4 linked regions of the Homo sapiens genome follow. The protein of the gene in region 4 interacts with the protein of the main gene of each other region in a pairwise test. Each region holds a gene or a part of one and is shown on either strand. Other genes may lie near its edges.

The links.
Region 1: the proteins of MX1 (region 4) and SLC25A3 interact in a two-hybrid assay, tested with the Homo sapiens proteins (one study listed by BioGRID).
Region 2: the proteins of MX1 (region 4) and KLHL35 interact in a two-hybrid assay, tested with the Homo sapiens proteins (one study listed by BioGRID).
Region 3: the proteins of MX1 (region 4) and ZNF251 interact in a two-hybrid assay, tested with the Homo sapiens proteins (one study listed by BioGRID).

What each region holds. Positions count from the first base shown.
Region 1 is NC_000012.12:98,603,686-98,606,903, reverse strand, and holds the end of SLC25A3 (solute carrier family 25 member 3 isoform b precursor), read right to left. Parts: 3' UTR 537-3,218; downstream 1-536. UniProt on the Homo sapiens protein: Inorganic ion transporter that transports phosphate or copper ions across the mitochondrial inner membrane into the matrix compartment. Mediates proton-coupled symport of phosphate ions necessary for mitochondrial oxidative phosphorylation of ADP to ATP.
Region 2 is NC_000011.10:75,423,183-75,430,218, reverse strand, and holds part of KLHL35 (kelch-like protein 35), read left to right. Parts: coding exon 1-470; intron 471-1,592; coding exon 1,593-1,777; intron 1,778-3,580; coding exon 3,581-3,699; intron 3,700-4,637; coding exon 4,638-4,826; intron 4,827-6,338; coding exon 6,339-6,527; intron 6,528-7,036.
Region 3 is NC_000008.11:144,752,516-144,759,783, forward strand, and holds the start of ZNF251 (zinc finger protein 251), read right to left. Parts: upstream 3,017-7,268; 5' UTR 2,890-3,016; intron 2,862-2,889; exon of another isoform or gene 2,289-2,861; 5' UTR 2,214-2,288; coding exon 2,181-2,213; intron 1,807-2,180; coding exon 1,677-1,806; intron 1,282-1,676; coding exon 1,168-1,281; intron 1-1,167. UniProt on the Homo sapiens protein: May be involved in transcriptional regulation.
Region 4 is NC_000021.9:41,429,205-41,436,240, forward strand, and holds part of MX1 (interferon-induced GTP-binding protein Mx1), read left to right. Parts: intron 1-1,328; 5' UTR 1,329-1,404; intron 1,405-2,826; exon of another isoform or gene 2,827-2,845; 5' UTR 2,846-2,866; coding exon 2,867-2,971; intron 2,972-6,632; coding exon 6,633-6,825; intron 6,826-7,036.

The sequences.
Region 1 (3,218 bases), on a different chromosome or scaffold from region 4:
ATGACATTTTACCGTCAAACTTATCCATGAGTAAAAGTTGGGTATACCATATTTTCAGATGTTAATGCTTCCTTGAGATTTAGCAGTTTTAACCTTGACTAATATAGCCCTCTAGTGTTAAGATCATGGGTCTTGGAATAATGATATGGCCTGTCACATGAATTATTTTCCATCTTCAAACTTTGCAATACACTGGATTCTGCAAAGCAAGCTGGCTGATTTGAACATCAAATTATTATTCACAGTATTAGGTAGGAATTATATCTTGTGTAAGAGACACATCCCCAAGGCTCTTTCATTCAGTGTAGCAATACTTATTAAGTGACTATTGCATACTGCACTTCAGTGTCTATAAAAACACACATGAAAACTCTGGAATAGCTGCTTTCTAGGAAACTTGTCAGGTCACACCTTAATAACCAGGAGATTCATAAACCTTATCAGTGGTGAGGTTAACATCTCATGCACTTCTATGAACACCTCTGAGAATGTGAAGTCAGGGCTGGCTTGTAAAAGACAAATGATTCAACACATAGTTTGAACTTTTATTTATGTTTAATTTTTTAATTTTTACAAGATGCCGATAGTAGCTGGCTTATTAATGTACATTATTCTTTGATATTTCAGGAAGCCACAGTGTTCAACTGTGAACTACAGAGTCCTGTAAGTTTAAAATAACTTTGTTTCTCAACTATGTGATATCCAGGATTTTTTACAATTACTTTGAGATTTTTCCTCATCAGTAATGCAAAGAAAATTGCAATATGATTATACAATTTATTTTTATTTTTTTAGACAGGTTATCACTCTGTCGCCCAGGCCGGAGTGCAGGGGTGTGATTGTAGCTCATTGCAGCCTCAAACTCCTGGGCTCAGACGATCCTCCTTCAGCTTCCTAAGTAGCTGAGATTACAGGCACGTGCCACCATGCCTGGCTAATTTATTTTTTGTAGAGAGAGGGGTCTCACTTTGTTGCCCAGGCTGGTCTCCAACTCCTGGGCTCAAGTGATACCCAGCCTGGGCCTCCCAAAGTGCTGGGATTACGGGTATGAGCCACTGTGCCCAGCCTGATATACAATTTCTTCCTCAGACAGTCTGGCTCTGTCGCCCAGGCTGGAGTGCAGTGGCACAATCTTGGCTCACTGCAACCTCTGCCTCCCGGGTTCAAGCAATTCTCCTGCCTCAGCCTCCCGAGTAGCTGGAATTACAGGCATGCACCACCATGCCTGACCAATTTTTGTATTTTTAGTAGAGACCTGGGGTTTCATCATGTTGGCCAGGCTGTTCTTGAACTCCTGACCTCAAGCAATCCGCCCACCTCAGCCTCCCAAAGTGCTTGGATTTCAGGAGTGAGCTTTTGCACCTGGCCTGATATACAATTTCTGATGCTATAGAAGCAATGTATAACTCCTAATTTACTAGTGACTGCTATGCGCTTCATTAACATTATGGACATGTCGATCCCAAAAATCATATAGAAATGTTACTTTTTTTTTGAGACAGGGTTTCACTCTGTCGCCCAGGCTGGACTGCAATGGCGTAAACATGGCTCACTGTAGCCTCAACCTCTCGGGCTCAAGCAATCCTCCTGCCTCAGCCTCCCAAATAGTTGAGACTACAGGCATGTGTCACCACACCCCTTAATTTTTGTATTTTCTTTTCTCATTATGTTGTCCAGGATGGTCTCAAACTCCTGGGCTCAAGGCATCCTCCTGCCTTGGTCTCCTAAAGTGTTAGAATTACAGGCATGAGCCACTGTGCCCAGCCAGAAATGTTAAACTCACTTTATGGTTTCAGAACAAGGATCAAATAAAATAAAAATATAAAAAATAAAATATGGTTGGCCAAGTGTGGTGGCTCAGCCCTCTAATCCCAGCCCTTTGGAAGGCCAAGGCAGAAGGCTCGCTTGAGCTCAGGAGTTCAAGACTAGCCTTGGCAACATAGCAAGACCTCATTTCTGCTAAAAATAAAAAACATTAGCCAGACATGGTGGTCCACACTTGCAGTCCCAGTTATTCAAGAGGCTGAGGTGGGAGGATCACTTGAGCTTGGGAGATCGAGGCTGCAGTGAGCTATCATCGTGCCACTGCACTCCAGTCTGGCGACAGAGCAAGACCTTCTCAAAAATAAAATATGGTCGAAACGGGACAGACAAGGCGGCTACCTGTAACCCTGGCCGCTTTAGGAGCTGGGGCAGGAAAGTTGCTTGAGGCCAGGAATCCGAGACCAGCCTGAGCAACAGCAGGACCCGTCTATGAAAAAACAGGAGCAAGTAGTGGCACATCCCAATTGTGTCAGCTAACTGGGAGGCTGAGGCAGGAGGATCGCTTGAGCCCAGGAGTTCAAGGCTGTACTCCAGCCTGGGCGACAAAGCAAGAACCCTGTTCTCTAGGGAAAAAAAAAAAAAAGTCAAAACATTTCATAAAACTTTCACACAATGGAGGTTTAGTTAAGCTGTTACTCTTCTGTTCAATTTTGTTGCACCTATCAGAAGGCATAATTTCATAAAATCAGGATTCCTTGGCGTTTTAACCACTCTCAAAATATTTGATCCTACTGGAAGTTACTATGCAATGCTATCTTGTCCCTGAATCAACATAATTCAACTATCAGCTTCATATATATATATATATATATATATTTTTTTTTTTTGAGACAGAGTTTCGCTGTTGTTGCCCAGGCTGGAGTGCAATGGCGCAATCTTGGCTCACCACAACCTCCGCCTCCCGGGTTCAAGCGATTCTCCTGCCTCAGCCTCCTGAGTAGCTGGGATTACAGGCACGCACCACCACCGCAGCTAATTTTGTATTTTTAGTAGAGACAGGGTTTCTCCATGTTGGTCAGGCTGGTCTTGAACTCCCGACCTCAGGTGATCCACCCGCCTCGGCCTCCCAGAATGCTGGGTTTACAGGCATGACCCACTGTGCCTGGCAGTTTCGTGTATTCTTACTCCACTGGGTTCTGCTTTATCGTATTGACAGTAGACATTTCATTAAATGAAATGTAAAAAGAACACCAATACATACATATTAAAATTTTCTTACTAGAATCTTTTAGTATAATTTAAAAACCTGAAATGAGAATTCGCATCACTTTAAGTGGGCCTCTTGGGTTTTGAGGATGAAGTGGCTTTCTCTCAGAAATAGCTTTGAACCGTAACTCTAGTAACTACAGTGGCAGGCTCCATAGCTTGAACACAGCGTATTTTGTATCAATGCC
Region 2 (7,036 bases), on a different chromosome or scaffold from region 4:
CTGCGCGAGGCCTGCGTGCGCTTTCTCGAGGGCCGCCTGCGCGCCGCCAACAGCCTAGCGCTGCGCCGCGTGGCCGCCGCCTTCTCGCTGGCCCCGCTGGCCGAGCGCTGCGGCCGCGTCCTGCGTCAGGCCTTCGCCGAGGTGGCGCGCCACGCCGACTTCCTGGAGCTGGCGCCTGACGAGGTGGTGGCGCTGCTGGCGGACCCCGCGCTGGGCGTGGCGCGCGAGGAGGCCGTGTTTGAAGCGGCCATGCGCTGGGTGCGCCACGACGCGCCGGCCCGCCGCGGCCAGCTGCGACGCCTGCTGGAGCACGTGCGCCTGCCGCTACTGGCGCCCGCTTACTTCCTGGAGAAGGTGGAGGCGGACGAGCTGCTGCAGGCCTGCGGCGAGTGCCGCCCGCTGCTGCTCGAGGCTCGCGCCTGCTTCATCCTGGGCCGCGAGGCCGGTGCGCTGCGGACCCGGCCGCGGAGGTAGGGCCGCCATCCCCTAGCTTCCCGCCCTCCGTTCTTCCCGCCTGCTTCCACCGCTCATTCATTCTTTCATCATCTTTTAGTACTGCCTCTTGATGATATTCAGTCATTCGTTCAACATTTTAGAGGCTCGGTGCCCATAATTCTGCCCTTGAAGAGTTAACAAGCCAGTGAGGGAGATGCAGAGACCCCACAGCTGCGCACACTCTCTTTGGCCCATGCAACCGTAATTCCGAGTACTTACTACTCTACGCAAGTTCTGTGCAGGGTGCCGGGATGCGGAAGTGATTTGAAAACACTCTTTGCCCTCTGGGAGCTCGCAGTCTAATGAGGGATAGAAATAGGCAGGGGCATGGGGAAGTAGTGAAAGCAGCCTGCCCCACCTTTGGAAAGCCAGACTGGGAGGCTCTGGGCAGAGTAGCCCTTAATCATGCCCCCAGAGACGACACTCTCTCTAACACTAAGCACAGGGCCTGGGACAGAGATCCTCAAATATGTGCCAAAGGAATTAGAAAACCAATGGCTAAAAGGGTATGGAAATTCTGGTGGCGTCAGATGGTGGGGTCAGTGAGAGGGAAGAATGATTTACTGAAAGGGTGAGTTATCCGGCTTAATGGAATTAGGGATGAGGGGATGTCATAGGAGGAGGGAGGCAGCAGAATCAGCGGTTGGAGGTGAGAAAAGGGTGTTGAAGATGAGTTAGCGACAGACAAACCTGGGCTTGAATTCCAGCTCTGACGCTTAATGGCTTTGGGCACGCCATGGTATGTGAGCCTCAGTTTCCTCCCCTGAGAAAGGGGTAATAATCCCTACTAATAGAACTGCCATACAGATTAAACGAGGTGATTTTTCTAGGTGAGGGCAAGGGCTCTGTAAAGATTTTTTTTTCTGTAGTTTAGAGGTCAGCAGAATGCGGTAAGCATTAGCGATTCTCTTCCCAGTACCCACAGGCAAAGTTGGAAGTGGCAGGGTCTAGCGGGATTGAGGCCGGGGGATCGGGTGGGCGGGGGTGATGGCAGAAACGCATGAAAGGGCAGCGGGACCGTGCAGTGTGGTCGAGAGGGTAAGAGAGGGCCGAACTTGGGTGCGGCCCAACAGGCACTGGGCTTATCCGCACGCCAGATTCATGGACCTAGCTGAAGTGATCGTGGTCATCGGCGGTTGCGACCGCAAAGGTCTCCTGAAGCTGCCCTTCGCCGATGCCTACCATCCAGAGAGCCAGCGGTGGACCCCACTGCCCAGCCTGCCCGGCTACACTCGCTCAGAATTCGCCGCCTGTGCTCTCCGCAATGACGTCTACGTCTCCGGTGAGGGCGGAGCCGCAACGGGAGCTCACACGGGATTGACTAGTAGCCTCCGCACTCCACCCCCTTTGCTTTTCCCTCCAATCGGGAGAGAGGGGCGGGATGTTTTCTGATAACCTACAGTTATTGGCTGAAGTGAGCAGGGCTAACTACGCGTGTGACCCGCCCTTTATTCAGGAATGTTAACTTCAATACATATGATTACTTTTTGTTCTGAACCGGCTTCCTAAGGAAGTCAATTCGTATTAGTATTAATAATCACTTCAACTAGCCTACTATGTGCCGAACATTATGCTAAGAAGCTTACATTCGTTATCATTAAATCCCCCTACAATGCTGTTTTACAGATAAGAAAGGCTCGGAGAGGCTCAGAATTTCCCCCATTGTCTCAAAAATGGCAAAGCTAGGAGGAACACACATCTGTTTGATACCAACAAACTGTGTCCTCCCTAAGGCTCAAGCCCTAAAGACTCAGAGAAGCATAAAACACAGTCCTTGCTCCCCTGGAGTGTCCTGGAGAGGAGAGAGACTTCACTTTTACTGCCAGGCAGAATGTGATCAGAATTCTCAGAGTCCCCAGATGATCTGGAATGCCACTCAGGGAATCTAGCCAGGGTTCATAGAAGAGATGACTTTTCAGCTGGACCTTGAAAGTTGGAGGGAACAGTATGGGCAAAGGCACAAGGGCAGGGACATGCAGAAAGGAACCCTGGGGACTCAGGGCTCTGAAGTGCAGGTTGAGTATCACAGGTGAGGCAGGAGTCAGATCAGGGAGGCTTTGAGTCTGGGGCTAGGTGGATTGACCTTAATGTTGTAAAGAACTATGGGTGCCTGCAAAGAGTAAGGAGCAGGAGAATAAGCCAGGGAGGCCTCACAGACCATCCAGGCCACAGATTACCACTGGACAATTTATCCAAGGCCATTGATGGCTCTGAGCAACATGTGGGGCCTTTGTTGGGTGCCACTAGGAATAAACAAAGATGGGGCTACCAAACAGATGTGGCTCTGGTCACAGGCTCAGGCTGAAGGGTGCAGTTAGGGTTGTCCCCAGGGAGGCTCCCATTGAGAGGTGAATCCCTGGCCAAGATCCCCAGGGTGGCCAGACATGGGAAGGGAGAGTCCACATCCTGCATCCCCAGTACCTGGCCCCATAGGGCATGCCATGTCCTCCAGCAGCACCAATGCTGGGCCTGGAGCCAGAAGCTCTGGTTCTGGCTCTGACAAAAGGCCATGTAGTCTTCAGCAGGTCATTGTTGGTCTCTAAGTCTCATCTGAGTTTCTTATATGTAAACTGGGTCTAATATTCCCAACACCTCATGGAGGGATGAGATCAGAAATGAAATTGTGCAGGTGAAGGCAGAAGGGAGGGAGGGTTATTGGGTCACCCTCTACCTATCCTGGCTCCCAGTGCAGCTGGCTCTGCTTTTCCTGGATCCCCAGTACATTCCAGATGCTTGCCTTAGGTACCCTTTGTACTCTTACCTTTAGTACAGCGGCCCCCTCTTTGCTTTCCTGAGCACAGAGCCTGGCACACCACCACCACCACCACAAGGTGCCCGGCGAAAACCAGCCCCTTCTTCCTGAATGTGTCAGGCTTCTCCCCTCGAGGGTCGTAACTCAGACATTCCCACCACTTATTCAAAGCACACTGGGTCACAGGTCCAGAGTCTTACACCAGCTCAAGAAGTCCTCCTGCTGCCTTCCCTTAACCCTTCCTTTGGATCTGGGGGCCCTAGTTTCTAGCTCTTTGGGGGTGCTTGGGATAGCAAGAGAGCCGATGGGCAACAGCTGCTTCTCTCTCCCTAGGAGGCCACATCAACAGTCATGATGTGTGGATGTTTAGCTCCCATCTGCACACCTGGATCAAGGTAGCCTCTCTGCACAAGGGCAGGTGGAGGCACAAGATGGCAGTTGTGCAGGGGCAGGTAGGCACGAGCTGCAGCGGCTGCCCTGGGACACAAGGTACAGATCTGTGGATGTGCTGGAGGGAGGTTCTCTAAAACCCTCTCTTTGTAAGAAGGGGTCTGAAGCCCCCCAAAAAAGGAGACTTGTCCAAGGTCACATAATAATGGCTGATGCTAATAATAATAGCAATTACTGTAATAGTAACAGCCTGATGGTCAAGGGTATGGGCTCTGGGGCCATAGAGTCTAGGTTTGAATCTTGACTGTGCCACTCAAGAATAAAAGAATCTGTCGGCCGGGCGCAGTGGCTGTAATCCCAGCACTTTGGGAGGCCAAGGCGGGCGGATCACGAGGTCAGGAGATCCAGACCATCCTGGCTAACACGGTGAAACCCCGTCTCTACTAAAAATACAAAAAATTAGCTCGGCGTGGTGGCTGGTGCCTGTAGTCCCAGCTACTCAGGAGGCTGAGGCAGGAGAATGGCATGAACCTGGGAGGCGGAGCTTGCAGTGAGCCCAGATTGCACCACTACACTCCAGCCTGGGCAACAGAGCGAGACTTTGTCTCAAAAAAAAAAAAAAAAGTCAATTATCTTTGTAAGCTACATCCCGAATTCAGAAACAAAGATGCTTCTTAGAATCAATTAAGTGGGGTGGTAAAGTCTCAATACTAGCTATTATTATTAAGCATCAGCTTGGTGCCAGGTATTTTACAGCTGTAACCATGCAGGTTAAGGTCTCATCCCCGCTAAATGAGAGGAAACCGGCTCAGGGAGGTACAGCAACTGGGTGGAGGCTGCCCAGGTGGTGGCAGCACTGGGCTCGGGGGTCAGTTTGGTCCTGAAACTGGGTTGGGGACAGGGATAGTTTCCAGCTCAAAGACTGTAAGGACTGAAGCGATGAGGCCGAGGGCCCTAAGGCCCTGGCACCCGGCTCCCCGGCCCATGTCCTCACTTGCAGCTGTTCGCGGTGGGTGGCTTCGACGGCCTGAGGCGCCTGCACAGCGTGGAGCGCTACGACCCCTTCTCCAACACCTGGGCGGCCGCCGCGCCCCTCCCGGAGGCCGTGAGCTCGGCGGCGGTGGCGTCCTGCGCGGGCAAGCTCTTCGTGATTGGGGGCGCCAGGCAGGGCGGCGTCAACACGGACAAGGTGGGCGTGGGCCTCAGGCGCGAGAGGGCGTTGAAGGCTGGGGTGCCCACTGTGTGCCAGGCGCAGAATTGGGCGTTTCCATGCCCTTGTCCATTTATTCACTTAATCCCATCAACAGCCCAGACCAGTCACCTCCATGTTTCAGGGAAGGAAATGAGCAGAAAAATGACCCCAAGGTCACACAGTGGGTCAGCAGCACACTGGGACTCAAATGTTTGGGCTGGTGCCATGTAAGTTTCATACATTTTAAAAATTGAGGGCAAGATAGTTAAAATGCTTTTGTTCCATTCCAAAAACAATACACTTACTACTGAAAATTTAGAAAACACAGAAAAATAGAAAAAAAAAAAACCCATAATCCCACCGTCTAGGCAGAGCTGCTATTCATATTTTGGTGTGTTGCCTTACAGGCTTCCACTGAATTGATTTTTGTTTTTCTTACAGTTTTGTTTTGTTAGAATTTTGCATTCTGCATTTTATTCTAATTTAGGTATGAGCATTTTCCACGTGATTATCAACTTTACAGCCATCATTTCAATGTCTGTACTATTCCACATGGTGGATGAACTAGAGTCTACTCATCTTTTATTGTTGGGACATTTAGGCTTTTTGCAAATAAAAATATTTATCATAGCAGTTCCTTCCCTCCCCTGATGGCCTCATAAGCCTGTGGTCCTAGGACTTGACTCTTTCCCAAATTAGGGTGCCCACGCTTCCTTATTCCCTGACCACATTCTTCCAGCAAACCCTCCTGGAGCTGAGTGATAGGCACTCATGGTGGGAGGCCCCATTTAACACCATCCATGCAGCACTGATTTGTTATAGGCTGCTGTGGGGGGAGGGGGTCTCCAAGGAAACAGTTGAGGAAACAGAGAGTGAGGTGAGCAGGCAGCTAAATACAGAAACTGTTAAGGGCATCAGAAACACCCATGGGCATGTGGACAGCTGTAGAAATAGGGCTGCAAGACACCTCAGCTAGAATCTAATGACCTGAGAGCACCAGGAAAAGAGAAGGGAGTTGACAGTGTATGCAGCTAGGAACACATCCCCGTCGGGGGTCTGCTCTGAGGACCCTCTATAACCCTAAAGCAGACAGTACCTCTCCCAGCTCAGTATGATGTGCTCTATGATTAATCTAACATGAGGCGACTGTGTTCTCCATCAAAGGAGAGACTGTTCCTGTGTGTGTGTGTTGAGGGGTGAGGGGAGGGGGGAACACCAGGGAGACCTTTAAGGATGGGGTGGCATTTGAGCAGGACCTCGAAAGATGAGGAGGCTTTTGACAAAGGGAGTCCAGAGGCAGAGGACAGAACATAGAACTAGATGAAGAGCCCTTGAGGGCAGGGACGGTGGACCTCCCCCTCCCTCCCAGATGCTGGCTCAGGCCTGGTGGACACTGGCAAATGTCGTTTTGAATGAGTGCCCCCGGGGGGAGAGGTGGCAGCATGTGGGCGGTGGGGCATTTGTTGGGGGGGGCGGTGAGTCTTCACCACTGCTGCTCTTGCCCCTCAGGTGCAGTGCTTTGACCCCAAGGAGGACCGGTGGAGCCTGCGGTCACCAGCACCCTTCTCACAGCGGTGTCTCGAGGCTGTCTCCCTTGAGGACACCATCTATGTCATGGGGGGTCTCATGAGCAAAATCTTCACCTATGATCCAGGCACAGATGTGTGGGGGGAGGCAGCTGTCCTCCCCAGCCCTGTGGTAAGTGGAGGCTTCAAGGCAGGAGAGCGGAACCCGCTTCTAAGGCTCTGGATCTTGGAGCTTGTGAATCTTGTGACTCCATCCTAGGTGGTTTTATTATACATCACTCTCTAGCTCATCCTCACAGTGATAGTGAACCATGCATTTCACAGATGAGGAGACTGGCCTTAGAGAGGTTCAGCACCTGGCCCAGGCCAACAACTAGGCCCTGTTAAGGCAGAGCCTAGAACCCTGCAGTCCCAAGTGCTATAGCTTTGAGTGGGGATTTGGTCCAAATGACCCTGTGGTCTCTCCTGCCCCGAAGGCCACTGCTAGTAACCAATCATGAGGTAAGATGTGGGGAAGGGAGTTGCTAAGGTCTGCTCTAGTGATATCAGAGCAGGGAGGCCCAAGTCCTGGAAGCTCTGGCCCCTGCAATTCCCTGCCTCCCCTACCTTCTTCTCCATCCCCTGAAACTCCAGAGACTACACAGATATGGTTGGACTGGAGGTCTCTGCCAGTTCTGACCT
Region 3 (7,268 bases), on a different chromosome or scaffold from region 4:
AATTTTGTGAGATGCAACTTAAGCTGCACTTTGAGAAAACGATATAATTTTACAATCTTAGCTCTTACATGTAGAAACCAAATGCTTTATTCAACCAATTTTGAATGTGCACAAATATGGGGTATATTTTTCACGAGCCTTTCTGAATAAACTAGAAGACAAGCTCCAGCCAACCAAGAGATGGGGAAATTTTTGGTAAAAGGACCAGAGATAAACAATTATTAATAACATACTTAACTGGAGATATAAGCCAGTAACAAAGCTGCGGATATGAGTTGTAAAGTGTTATATGTTCTGACAGTGTAGAAACAATATAACCAACAAAAACTGGGAAAGGAATGAGGAGGAAAAGGGAGAAAAGTAGAACAAGCTTGTTGACTGTCTCAGTAGCTGGCAGTCAAAGATAATACTTACAGCTGACATATCAAGTAGTAGATGTATATTCAATAGAACAAAGGTAAACATTAAAAAAAGCCACTGGTCAGGTGCAGTGGCTCATGCTTGTAATCTCAGCACTTTGGGAGGTCGACATGGATCACTTGATCTCAAGAATTTAAGACCAGTTTGGGCAACGTGGTGAAACCTTGTCTCAACAAAAATAAAAAAAAAACTAGCCAGGTATGGTGACATGTGCCTGTAGTCCTAGCTACTTGGAAAGCTGAGGTGGGAGGATTGCCTGAGCCTGGTACGTGGAGGTTGCAGTGAGCCGAGATCGTGCCACTGCACTCCAGCCTGGTGACAGAGTGAGATTCTGTCTCGAAAAAAAAAAAAAAAAAAAAAAAAAGACTACTACTGACTAAACTTGGCAAATGAAGGAGAGAATGGAGTGAAGAATAAAAAGGACATGGTAGGGTACCGATATCTATTGTCAAAAGGAAATAAGTGTATTATAAAGAAGGGAATGAAGTTGTTATCAAGGTAAATCACCAAAACAAAAATATGATCAGAAGTAGTATATATATATTTTTAAAGCAAAGAAACAGACCAGCAAGATAAAACTTCTAAAGCATGTGCACATGCTCACATTTGTAGAGGGGCTGTATCTGTGAGACTGCCCCTGGGGGAGGCCATTAATATGAACGCCATGCCCCAGCTGTCCCTCGCTTGGAGCCTCTTAAGGCAGGATTGGGAGGCTGCTCCCAGGATTAGCATCCCATCCATTCTCACCTTTCTGGCAGCTTTTCAAGATATCTGGTTCCTCAGCTCCCAGAAGATTCAGGACCCAAAGTTCCTTCCCCTGCTCCAGCTGGGAGATCAACTCCGGCTTAGGGACAGGGAATCCTGTTGAGGATGAGGACACTGGTGAGCTGGCATGGCCCACTGGGCCTTCCAGGCCAGGTGTGGAGAGATGGGCCCTGTGTGCACGTGTGTACGCCTGCACGTGTGTTGGTCAGGGGGCCCGTGGGCTGAGACTAAGTACTGAAGGAGAATCCACTCATCAGCTCTCCTGCCACTGGAGGGACACCAGTGGGGCCACTGGCAACAGGGAGTGAAGTCCCTAGAACTGGGGAGCAAGGCAGGCTTTTCCCATGGGAAATGTTCCTTCTGTAGAGATCAGACTGATACCCGGGGACAAGGGGCAGGACCCTCTTCTTTGGGATCCAAAGAGCCAAAGCAGCCTCCCAAGCTCCTCAGAGGCCCCCACTGCGAACCAGGCCAAGTGCAGAGAGCCTCACCCAGAGAGGCCACGTTCCCATAGTTCTCCAGCATCACATCCCGGTAGAGCGCCCGCTGCTGGGGGCCCAGCTGCCGCCCCTCCGCCTGAGAGAAGTACACGGCCACATCCTGGAAGGTCAGCGGCATCTCCTGCAACAAAACATCGCCGCTGCCCAGGCCATGCCCACGGGGCAGCAGCCTGCACTAAAAGGGCCCTGACCTGGTGGGGCCCCACTACCCAGGGCCCTGCTGTGGTCAGTATGAACTGTGTATCAGCAGGTCCCTGATGGGGCAGCTGAGAGCGCTGAGGACCAGCCAACTTCAGCTACACGGGGACCCAGCTGAGCTCAGAGCCCCTCTCCCTGCAGGAGGGCGAGTCTACCTCTCAGAACCCTTTCCTCACGGTTGCTATGAGCCCCTGGCTGGCCTTACCAGTTGCCGGGCTCACGGCTCCAGAGGAGAGTAGCTTCTGACTGGGATGGGGATGAAGATGAAGAGGTGGGCAGGAAGGAGGGTTAACTCACCTGGTGCCCTGGAAGCTGGAATGTGGCTGCCATTCTGTGTGCATGGGCTGCTGTGGTTTCCAAGAGAAGACAGGAGACTGCCCTGGCCTGAAGTCTCCCCGAACTTACCTTCAGTGGGGAGAACTCAGGCTCAGCCCCATTCAACCAGGGGTGTGGAAGGATGGCCAGGAGGCAGAAGCTGATTGCTGCTGTGGCCTCCTGGGTCGCGGGAGGCAGGTCACTATGCAGCACGGGCCGACGTGCCCTACTGCTCAGTGACTCCTGAAATCCCAGAACGGCCAGAGCCAGAGCCCGGGGGGATCCAGGGACGCCCGGCTAAGGGGTGAAAGCTGGCAGTTCCCGTGGTCCAGACCTGCTGAAGGCCCTGGAAATGGGGTGCAGGGCCGTTCTACCTGCCTGGCCAACCTGGGGCAAAGAGCCACGTGAGGGTGCAGCCTCACCAAGGCTGAGGACGTGAGAAGGAGGCCGCGGGGATGCTGCCGAAGGCCCCAGGCTCCGGGGAGAGGCCGGAAGCCAGCTGTGGTCCTCAGTCCAGCCTTCTAGGGCCGCGCCGCGGTCGCCTCCTCCCGGCCTCTGCAGCCCGTCGGTGGCTCCCGCGGCACCCAGAACAGGCTCCTCCTGGACTGGCCGCCGCCTCCCCGCGCCCTCCCCGCGCCCTCCCCGCCTGCCTGCCCGCTTGGCGCTCCTTCCTGGTCCGACACTGCCCCACCTGTTTGCTCGACCCGGGGAAGCCACCGAGGAAGCGCCGAGGAGCTGCGCAGTCGCACCGAGCCCGGAACGGACCCTCCCACAGAACCGGGTCCAGAGCCGGGGAGGGGGCGGGCTAGGATGAAGAGGGCGGGCCGGGCCGAGCTGCGCACACGCAGGCTTCCCCGCCCCCTGCGGGGCCTCAGTACGCCTCCGAGAACGCCGGGAACCGGAAGCCAGCCGCGGTTCCGCCCGGATTCTTCCGGGGCCGCTCTGGGATGACTGGAGGCCTGCGCCGTCTATGGTCGGGGAGGGGGAGAGCCCACGGCAGCTGAGCGGAGGGTCTGGCGCGGTGACGCTGCGCATCCGGGCCGCGCCGCGCTCGCCCCGACCCTAAACCCTCACCTGAACCCTAACCCCGCTGGGCTCCCGGCTCCCCCGTCGGTCACCATACATCGTGTGTCCCGATTCACCATAACCACCAGAAAGTCGCTTATGAAGATGTTACAATTATCGGGGCTCAGAACACAACGCCCCAAAATGAAGGCCTGGGAGGCAGTTTCCCTCTGACCTTCCCAGGCCTCCAGTCTCAGTTCTTTTCTCCCGCGAGGCTCCTCACAGAGTGAATCCCTTTTACCCAAGGCGAGTCCCAGAGGCCAGACCCCCAAAGCCAGCCACAAAACCTAAAAACACGACTCTGATGTTCCCCCCGCTTTTCTGTGTGAAAACTGGCGGTAAAGGCCGGGCGTGGTGGCGGGCGTCTGTAGTCCCAGCTACTCCGGAGGCTGAGGCGGGAGAATCGCTTGAACCCGGGAGGCGGAGGTTGCAGTGAGCCGAGATCGCGCCACTGCACTCCAGCCTGGGTGACAGAGCGAGACTCCATCTCAAAAATAAATAATAAATAAATAAATAATCCATTTATTTGCCTTTTCTCCAAAAATCTGCCTTTTATGAGTTGGCTTTCAGTGAACCTTCAGAGGGCAAAGAGGAACTTTCCCTTTGGCCCCTACACAATAAAGCATGGTTGAAAAAATAGCACTTGATAAAGGTGAGGAGACCAGCTTAGGAGCAGGGGGAGAAGGAAAGGAAAGCCAAGCCATCTTGTCACCCAGAATATAGTGTAGGCCCTGTACACTGTGTTAGAATCAAGGCAGAAATTTTATATCTGAACTTGAGACGATCAACGAGGATGGAGAATGTCTAGAAGTCTAAAGCACCATGCAAAGTCACACATGATTAAGAAGATGCCTTACATTATTAATATCAGTGCTGGGGAGATTGTGGAGAATTACGCACTGCTATGCTTGAGGAAGCGTGTTTAGTACAATGTTGAAAATGAATTAAGCTGTACATAAAGAGCCTTAAACACTTCAATTAATCTAGGAATCTATCCTATGGAAATAACAAAAATGACAAAGAGAAGGGTGCCCATTCCAGAGTTTGTTGTGTGTGTGGTTTTTTTTAAATAATGGGGAGAATTTGGAAAATAGCTAGTTATTCATAGAAGGGGAAATGGAAGATAATTATGCTTTTTGCAGCACAGAAATAGATAAATCTATTGTCTTCTGTACACTCAGTTGAACATTATGCAGCCATTATGTGTGGTATTTGAAAAAAAAGTATTGGCAGAGGGTAATGCTTATGAAATAGAATGTGAAAAATAGAATACAAAATTATATTTATGATATGATCTCAATTGTATATATGGGTGTTTAAGTTCACAAACTTAAGGTTTCCAGATATAAGGACCTAGGTTGGTTTGTTCACTGCTCAGCCACCAGCCTGGAACATAGTAAGTACTCTATAAATACTTGGGAAGTGCTTGAAAAACGTATATAAAAAGCTGAAAATAAATACATCATTACTAGTTGTAAGATTGCAGAATATTTGATTTCCTCTTTTTCTTTTTCACATCTCCTACAGGGGGCGTGTAATCACTCTGTGACTGGTGGCTGCAGGCTCTCCTAATGGATATTTCCTATTTACAGGGCTACCAACTGCCAAGCATCCAAGCAGTCCCTAGGCAGCAATCCAGCAGCTGACAGGGTTACCGGCGTCAACTGCCACAGATGCTAGGCTGGTTTGCCATATTTACATGGATTTGATCAGCAATGAGCACAAAAGATAGAGATTGTTTCTTTCTTTCTTTTTTTTGAGGTGGAGTTTTACTCTTGTTGCCCACGCTGGAGCGCAATGGTGAGATCTTGGCTCACTGCAACCTCCACCTCCCAGGTACAAGTGATTCTCCTGTCTCAGCTTCACAAGTAGCTCGGATTACAGGCATGCAGGACCATGTCCAGCTAATTTTTTTGTATTTCGTAGAGACGGGGTTTCACCATATTAGTCAGGCTGGTGGCAAACTCCTGACCTCAAGTGATCCACCTGCGTCGGCCTCCCAAAGTGCTAGGATTACAGGTGTGTGCCACTGTGCCCAGCCTAGATTGTTTATTTCTTACTCAAACAGCTACAGCATGATCAGCAGCCTGTGTCCCTAGACACACAAGATGACAGCAAACCATAGGGGCCAGATGACAGAAAGCACAGATGGTGGCCACGGTGCTGCTGAGGCGCCAGCTCCACACTGCAGCCAGGCAGTGGTGTGTCCGCAGCTGTACCCCAAGGAGGGGCAAAGGGAGCATCCCAGACGCAGCCAACCAGGGGCCCAGGGGCGCTGCTGTCACTGTCGTTTCTTACAAGGTTGCTTGTCTCCCTTAGTTTCAGGAGGAACCTCCAAGCATTCTGCCAAACTCAGTTCACACGGTGATGGACCTTGCCACACAGCTATGTGAAGATGTCCAAGGTCCTCAGGGCCCAGAACAGAGCTGTTCCCTACTCCACTGACCTCCCTGTTTCTAAAACCAGTGGGCTTTTTTTTTCCTTTGAGACAAGGTCTCTCTCTGTTACCCAGGCTGGAGTGCAGTAGCACAATCTCAGCTCACTGCAACCTTCACCTCCCCGGGCTCAAGCAATCCTCCCACCTCAGCCTTATGAGTAGTTGGGATCACAGATGCGTGCCACCACATCGGGCTAATTTTTTGTATTTTTTTGGTAGAGACAGGGTCTTGCTCTGTTGCCCAGGCTGGTCTCAAACTCCTGACCTCAAGTAATCCACCTGCTTTGGCCTCCCAAAGTGCTGGGATTACAGGTGTGAGCCATAGTGCCTGGCCACCAGTGGGCATTTTTTAGTTTTCCTTTACTTGACCTCTCAGCAATATTTGACACCATGAACTGTCTGTCCTTCTTGGAACACTTGATTTCCTTATCATCAATAATACCACCCTTCCTTCATTTTCTGCCAACCACTCTCAATCTCCTTTGCTACTTTCTCCTCTACTCAGTGTCTGCCCTGCGCATTCTCCTTACTTTATTCTACATTTTCCTCTAAGAGAGCTTACCTTGTCTCATTTCTTCAACTGCTACTTACATGTAAATTACCCCACTTAAAAAAATTCCATCTCAGACCTTTCTTCTGTGTTCAAACCTTTAGAAATACATACTCAGCATATTTACCCATTGGCTGGGCACGGTGGCTCGCGCCTATAATCCCAGCACTTTGGGAGGCCGAGGTGAGCGGATCAACTGAGGTCAGGAGTTTGAGACTAGCCTGGCCAACGTGGTGAAACTCCATCTCTACTAAAACTACAAAAAATTAGCCGGGTGTGGTGGTGCACGCTTGTAATCCCAGCTACTCGGGAGGCTGAGGCAGGAGAATCGCTTGAACCTGGGAGGTGGAGGTTGCAGTGAGCCGAGATCATACCATTGCACTCCAGCCTGGGCGACAGAGCGAGACTCCATGAAGAACAACCACAACAACAACAACAAAAATTTAAGCGGGCCTAACACCCACGGCAAGCAGTGCCGGAGAGGGCAATCAGACTGGGGGCCGGGGCAGGCCCTTGTTCTCACTCCTCACATTCATGACAAATATACCTGTGTCTTGGGAAATTCTGGGGAGGAAAATTCAGACCCTTCCTTCCACCGTACCCTCTCAGGAGGAGTGGTGGGAAGAGAGTGACTTCATTGGGAATCCTTAACCTGGGGGACGGATGGCAATCCGTCTGTATCTTCCTCCAGCTGCCTGAGGTACATTCAGTACTTGCATCACCAGTTTCCACGTACAAAAACACCAGAATTCAGGCAGCCTGGCCAACATAGTGAGAACCCATTTCTAAAAATAAAATAAATAAAATAATAATAAAGCCGATTAGGGACCATGATTTTGCATCTGCAGCCACAAGCGCCTGCTAACTGTCATGAGAAACTGACCCTCCCAGTCATATGTAGAGGCCTCTGCCATGGCAAAGAGCAGACCCCAGTGCATTCCGTCTGATCCCAGGAAGATTGGAAGGACAAAGAAGCTGGAGGGGCGGGAGCTACCTTGTTGCGGGAAGTCAGGGACCC
Region 4 (7,036 bases):
GAAACCGGTTTGAACTCCCGAGATTGCCCTGCCCCTGAAATCCAAACTGATGTTCCGAATGATCAGGGAAAGGTACAAACGTTTATGGTTTACAGACAAAACCCATAAGGTTTAGCTTTCAGAGAATCTCATTTTATGAAGCAAATTAGGGAAGGGAATCTACTCACCAAGTCCTGTTTCAGCTGATTGAGTGGAACCTGTGGTCATGTGGTACAAGTCCTGGTCTCAATGATGCTCCTTATCTGGCTGCAGAAAGGCCAACTGAGGCAACCATAGCCCAGAAGACTGGTACTCCTGAGAGGCAGATGAAGTGGTGGTCTTTGATATCGAGCCTGGGATGCCCTGGGCACATGAGGTATTTCCAAAGGCATGGGAGTTTTAGGGAATAAATTCCCAGATTGTCAGACTCCATAAGTACCGTTTACAATGGATTACCTTTTATAACCATCCCAATCCTACCTGACAAAAGAGGTGGGCAGATTACGAGGTCAGGAAATTGAGACCATCCTGGCTAACACTGTGAGACCCCATCTCTACTAAATAAATACAAAAAATTAGCCGGGTCTGGTGGCGTGCACCTGTAGTCCCAGCTACTTGGGAGCCTGAGGCAGGATAATCGCTTGAACCCGGGAGGTGGAGGTTGCAGTGAGCCAAGATTGCGCCACTGCTCTCCAGCCTGGTGACAAAGCGAGACTGTCTCAAAAAAAAAAAAAAAAAGAAAGAAATACATCCCTTTCTTCCCTTCCAAATCGAGCAAGGATGCCTGCCCTGGAAGTGTATAAACCCGGGGAAGGGAGACAGAAAAGGATAGTTTTAAGTATTGGTGTTGGGGACGTGTTCTTTAGCCAAGGCAGCATGAACCCATGGCAGCACTTCCCAACCTTCCTGACATGGGCGTTTCTGTGAACTCCAGTGTGATGGAGAAATGGCATTGGCTCAGGTGTGCAGCTAGATATGTTACAGAGCAGGGTGACAGGCAGGGGTGATGAGTTTTGTTTTAACAACCTGTCCCTTCAACCCTCATGGTACTGACAAAGATCACATGGCTCTCGGGGGAGATTCCTGCGAGGGGAAGCAAGGAGAGCATCCTTACATATTATTGATCCAGGCAGCAGATTTGCAGCAAAGCTCTGTGCTTTATTCATCTGTTAAAATAGTTAAAATAGTCAAAACATAGGAAAAGGATTCTGGGAAGTCAGAATCGGCTTCAGAGCACACCCCTCCTGCACTTGCCCGGTTCTCAGACTTGGGAATGGGACTGGGTGGGTGGGTACTCTCGGGTGTTCCGCGGGTTTGGGTCTTACTTGTACACTTTGCTTGATTTCAAGGAGGTGCAGGAGAACAGCTCTGTGATACCATTTAACTTGTTGACATTACTTTTATTTGAAGGAACGTATATTAGAGGTAAGTTGGTGCATGCTATTTTCTGTAACATTTATTTTGAGTCATAGGAGAAAGATTTTCAGTTACTTTTATCCAAGATTATTAGACACTGTAAAATTTCATATTTAGGCACTTGTCCTACAACATTTTAAAAATGAATTTCAAATACATACGTGTGTATTTGTAATGCAGACAAGTATAAGGCAGTCAGTTACATGCTTTCAAGAGTAAAATGAATGACATTTCATTTCCCCCATTTGTGGGAGTAAAAGAATGACAATATGAAATTGATGATCAAAAGAAAGAGCATAAAAGATTTAGAGCTCACGTGTTTTTTAAACTAAAGGTTTGGGTATCAAATTACCGTAATATTTGGATTCTCTTGGCTACATTGGAAACAGTTCTATAACAATTTTATTTTTAAATGTAAAGTTTTTGTTTGTTGTTGTTTTTAAGACGGGGTCTCGCTCTGTCGCCCAGGCTGGAGTGCAGTGGTGCGATCTCGGCTCACTGCAACCTTCACCTCCCAGGTTCAAGTGATTCTCCTGCCTCAGCCTCCCAAGTAGCTGGGACTACAAACACACACCACCACTTCCAGCTAATTTTTGTATATTTAGTAGAGATGGGGTTTCACTATGTTGGCCAAGCTCGCTTCGAACTCCTGACCTCAGGTGATCCACTCACCTTGGTCTCCCAAAGTGCTGGGTGGGATACAGGCGTGAGCTACTGTGCCCAGCCTTTAAATGTAAACTTTTTAATTGTATTACAACTGCATCAGAAGTTGTATACTTTGCAACTATTCAAATTTATACTGAAAACGTTTTTGAAGTTCAACCTAAAATTATGACAGGAGATAGTTTTAGAAAATATTTTGGGGAACAGAGGCATATTCTATTTTTTTTTTTTGAGACAGAGTCTTGCTCTGTTGCCCAGACTGGGGTGCAGTGGCGTGATCTCAGCTGACTGCATCCTCTGCCTGCCAGGTTCAAGCAATTCTTTGCCTCAGCCTCCTGAGTAGTTGGGATTACAGGTGCCCGCCACCATGCCTGGCTAATTTTTTTGTATTTTTAGTAGAGACAAGTTTTACCATCTTGGCCAGGGTGGTATTGAACTCCTGACCTCATGATCTACCTGCCTCAGCCTCCCAAAGTGCTGAGATTACAGGCGTGAGCCCCGGGGCCCGGCCTGGAGGGATATTCTTGAAGCGCCTTGAGCAGGGAGGCAGCGTTTGTCTTTATCTGACCTTGGCTTCTTTGGGTCACTCTGTTTCTCTTTCCGTGAATAAAAAGCCAGTGAGCACACACTGTGTCCCAGGCACTCTTCTACGCTCTGGGGACATCACCATGAACAACTAGTCAGAGTCCCCACCTCCAGGGGCCTTCCGTTCTGGTGGTGGGTTTGGTTCCATGGTTGAATGCACCCAGCTGCTTATCTGTTCAATAGGCATCTGCTTTATTTTAAGCTTACTTTGCAAAGAAGGAAGATGGTTGTTTCCGAAGTGGACATCGCAAAAGCTGATCCAGCTGCTGCATCCCACCCTCTATTACTGAATGGAGATGCTACTGTGGCCCAGAAAAATCCAGGCTCGGTAAGTTGCTCTCTGAAAGTCGCTATCCATGTGACATGAGCCATGCCCATTCGAGGCTGCCCTTTTCTACAGCGGTGCTACTGCTGCCCAGATATGCCTGCTCTCTCGCCTCTCCTGTGCCAGGACGCAGATCCTGACCCTCTACTTGCCAGCTGACAACCATGTATAGACTCGTTGCCTTAGCTCACCGTGGGTGGAGGTGCTGCTGGGGTTGGGGACACTGGCTGAGCTGTCGATGGGTTCAGCTCATCTATACTAGAAGGAACTGGCCCAGGCCCTGGGTTCAAGGAGCACTAGGTTTGTTTTTCCTGCCCACATCATGATTCAGTCTCAAGCTACAAACCCTGGGGCATCATTAAGATATTATCTTTGTAGGGAAGCCACGTGGTGAATTTTTTGCCCAGAATCAAGACATATTTTTGGTGGGAACCAATCATGGCCCCTGGAATCAGTCCAACCTCAGTTGGTCCCGACGCTGACACTCTCAGCTGTGTGATTGTGGGTAGTTATTCCTCCTGTTATAAGCCTGGTTTTCCATATCTAAAATGAGAATAATGGTCTTTGCTTTATATGGCTGAGAGCAAAGTGCAGGGAGTGTCCAGGTACTCAGAGTGCTCAGTTTCTTATTACCGTGGATCACTGGTCTGTTTCAGGCTGGCTCTGTTTTCCTAGGCAATGTTAAACAATTTTTCAAACAATATTCAAAAAACATTGAAGCGTTTAGAAAAATACAGAGGACCACCACCTTTCCACCACCCTGATACCACCGTTTACATTTTTCTGCATTTCCGTCCCTGGTGCGTCTCTTGTCTGGCTGTAAGAGATGTAATTATGTCAGGGTATGGGGCAGGAGGAACTCTCACCCACTCATACTTGCGTGCTTTGGAAGCAGCTTGGCCTTTTCCAGTCAAGGAGAACAGAGTGTGTCTCGTGATCTGGCAGTTCCACTTCTGGGGATAGACTGTGGTTCTCAAAGTGTGGCCCCCAGCCCAGCCCATTAGCATCACCTGGGAAGTTGACTGAAATGCAAATGACCAGCCCCTCCTCCCACTCTTAGACCTGGTGAATTGGACACTCTGGGGCAGGGCCCACCCCCTGTGCTTTACCAGGCTCTCCAGGTGATTCTGCTGTGTGCTGGAGTTTGAGGACCATGTGTAAACCCTTGCACATCCCCCTGGGAGCCACATGCATAGCAGCACTGTTTATAACAGCAAAACTCAGACCCTGTCTACGTGCCTGTCATGGTGGAATGGATACTGGGAGTGTGGTATGTTCATGTAGCAGAATTCTATACAGTAGTAAAGAGGAATGAACTAGAGTTCCAGGTATCAAAATGGCTGCATCAAATGAACAACGTTGAACCAAAGAATCAAGTTACAGGAAATATACAAAATGATTCCACTTACGTAAAATTCCCCAACAGGCAGCAATAGGCAATATACCATTGTGGGAAAAACATATAGGTGGCAAAACTATAAAGAAAAGCAAGGATGTGATGATTGCAAGCCTCAGGATAGAGGGACCCTCTGGAGGTGAAGGAGTTGACCCAGGGAGGTGTGTGCAATGTCCTAAGTACTGGGAGTGTTTGTGTTCTTAACCCAAGTGGTTGGTACATGCATATTTGCTTTATTATGTTTGACACACTTTTGTAAATAGATAGTATAAATAAATGAAAACAAACAAAAAGTTATAAGGTGAACTAAGACCGAGGCTACCAACTGTATTCATGCATTTGGTAAGGCTGTGGTTCTTTCTCAGTCAGGGCCCATTTTGCTCCCTGGAACTTGTGGCCAGGTCTAGAGACATCTTGGTTGTCACAACTCAGGGTGAATAGTGAATAGAGGCCAGGTATTTGGCTAAACCTCCTACAATGTGTAGGGTAGCCCCTGCAACAAACAATCTTCTAACCCCAAATATGAATAGCTTCTTGTCCTGTTATAAAGAAGCTATTCTAGTAAAAACGTCTGTCTATGATGAAGCATGCACAAAAATAGTCATTAGAAAGAGGTAAAAGACAAAATGATTTTCTCATATTTTCTTCCTGAACCTCAATCAGCCCACTTTAGGAAAATTGCACCCAGCTGCTGGTAGGTAGGCAGGACCGAGTGTGAAGTCTGCTGCTTTCTCTGTTTTTATGCAAGTACTTCACTATTTTGATTACTTTAGTTTTATAGTAATTATGGAAATTAGGTAATGCTAGTCCTCTGACTTTGTTCTTCTTTTTCAAAGTCATTTTGACTAAGAATATTTAGATCATTTCTATTTAATGTGACTGGTAATATAATTAGATTTGAGAATATCATCTTGCTATTTGTTTTCTATTTGTCCCGTCTGTTCTTCGTTCCCCCTTTCGTCTTTTTCTGCCTTCTCTTGGATTATTTTTTATGATTCCATCATGTCTCCTTTGTTGTCTTATTAAGTATAACTCTTGGTGTTTTTAGTATATATCTTTAACTTAATAAGTCAACCTTCAAGTGATAGTCTGTCACTTCATGTATAGTGCGAGAACCTTAGAATAGTGTATTTCCATCTCTCTGCTCTGAGCCTTCATACTATTTCTATCATGCATCTTTTACATACATCATAAACCCCACAATACATTGTTATTATTGATGTTCAAACATTCAATTATCTTTTAAATAAAGATAGCAAAGGAATACAAAAAAGTGTAGTAGTTACCCCTTCTAGTATAGACTCCTTTGTATAGATCCAGATTTCCATTCAGTATCATTTTCCTTCTACCTAAAGAACTTCTTTAACATTTCCTGTAGTGCAGGTCTGCTGGTAATGAATTAGTTAAGCTTTTGAATGGCTAAAAAAGTCTTTGTTTTGCCTTCATTTTTAAAAGTTATTTTTGCTGGGTATAGAATTCTAGATTGATGGTGTTTTTCAGTACTTTAAAAATACTGCTTCACTGTCTTCTCGCTTGTTATTGCTTCTGATAAGATTGACAGCAGATTTCTCATTTGTGTCCCTCTGCTCACACTGTATCATTCTCTGGCTGCTCCTAACATTTTCTCTTTATTACTGGTTTTGAGCAATTTGACCCTCTTATGGCTTGATGATGTTTATGTTTGCTGTGCTTAATGTCTGTTGAGTTTCTGGGATCTTTGGGTTTATGGTTTTCATTAAGTTTGAGGGAATTGTATGTATTATTTCTTCAAATATTTTTTTCTGTCTCTCTTCCATTCTCTTTTGGGGATTCCAGTAACCTGTGTATTAGACTTATTGAAGTTGGCCGTCTTTAATGGAGTGTATTGGTTCATTCTCACACTGCTATAAAGAACTGCCTGAAACTAGGTAATTTATAAAGAAAAGAGGTTTAATTGACTCACAGTCCACATGGCTGGGGAGGCCTCAGGAAACTTACAATCATGGAGGAAGGCATCTCTTCACAAGGTGGCAGGAGAGAGAATGACTGAAGGAGGAACTTGCCAAACACTTATAAAACCATCAGACCTCATGAAAACTCACTATCATGAGAACAGCATGGGGGAAACCTCCCCCACAATCCAATTACCTCCACCTGGTCTCTCCCTTGACACGTAGGGATTATGGGGATTACAATTCGAGATGAGATTTGGGTAGGGACACAGAACCAAACCATATCATGAGCATGATTTGCAGGCCATGAAGAATTCTCCATTTTTGTTTCCTCCAGGTGGCTGAGAACAACCTGTGCAGCCAGTATGAGGAGAAGGTGCGCCCCTGCATCGACCTCATTGACTCCCTGCGGGCTCTAGGTGTGGAGCAGGACCTGGCCCTGCCAGCCATCGCCGTCATCGGGGACCAGAGCTCGGGCAAGAGCTCCGTGTTGGAGGCACTGTCAGGAGTTGCCCTTCCCAGAGGCAGCGGTAAGAACTTACATTCTGTGTTAGTCTGCTCAGGCTGCCATAACAAAATACCACAGACAGGGTGGCTTATACAACAAAAGTTTATTTTCTCACAGTTCTGGAGACTGGAAGTCCAAAATCAGGGTTTAGCTTCTCCTGAGGCCTTTCTCCATGGCTTGCAGATGGCCACCTCCTCACCGCTCCCCCATGCGGCCTTCCTTCCACACACAAG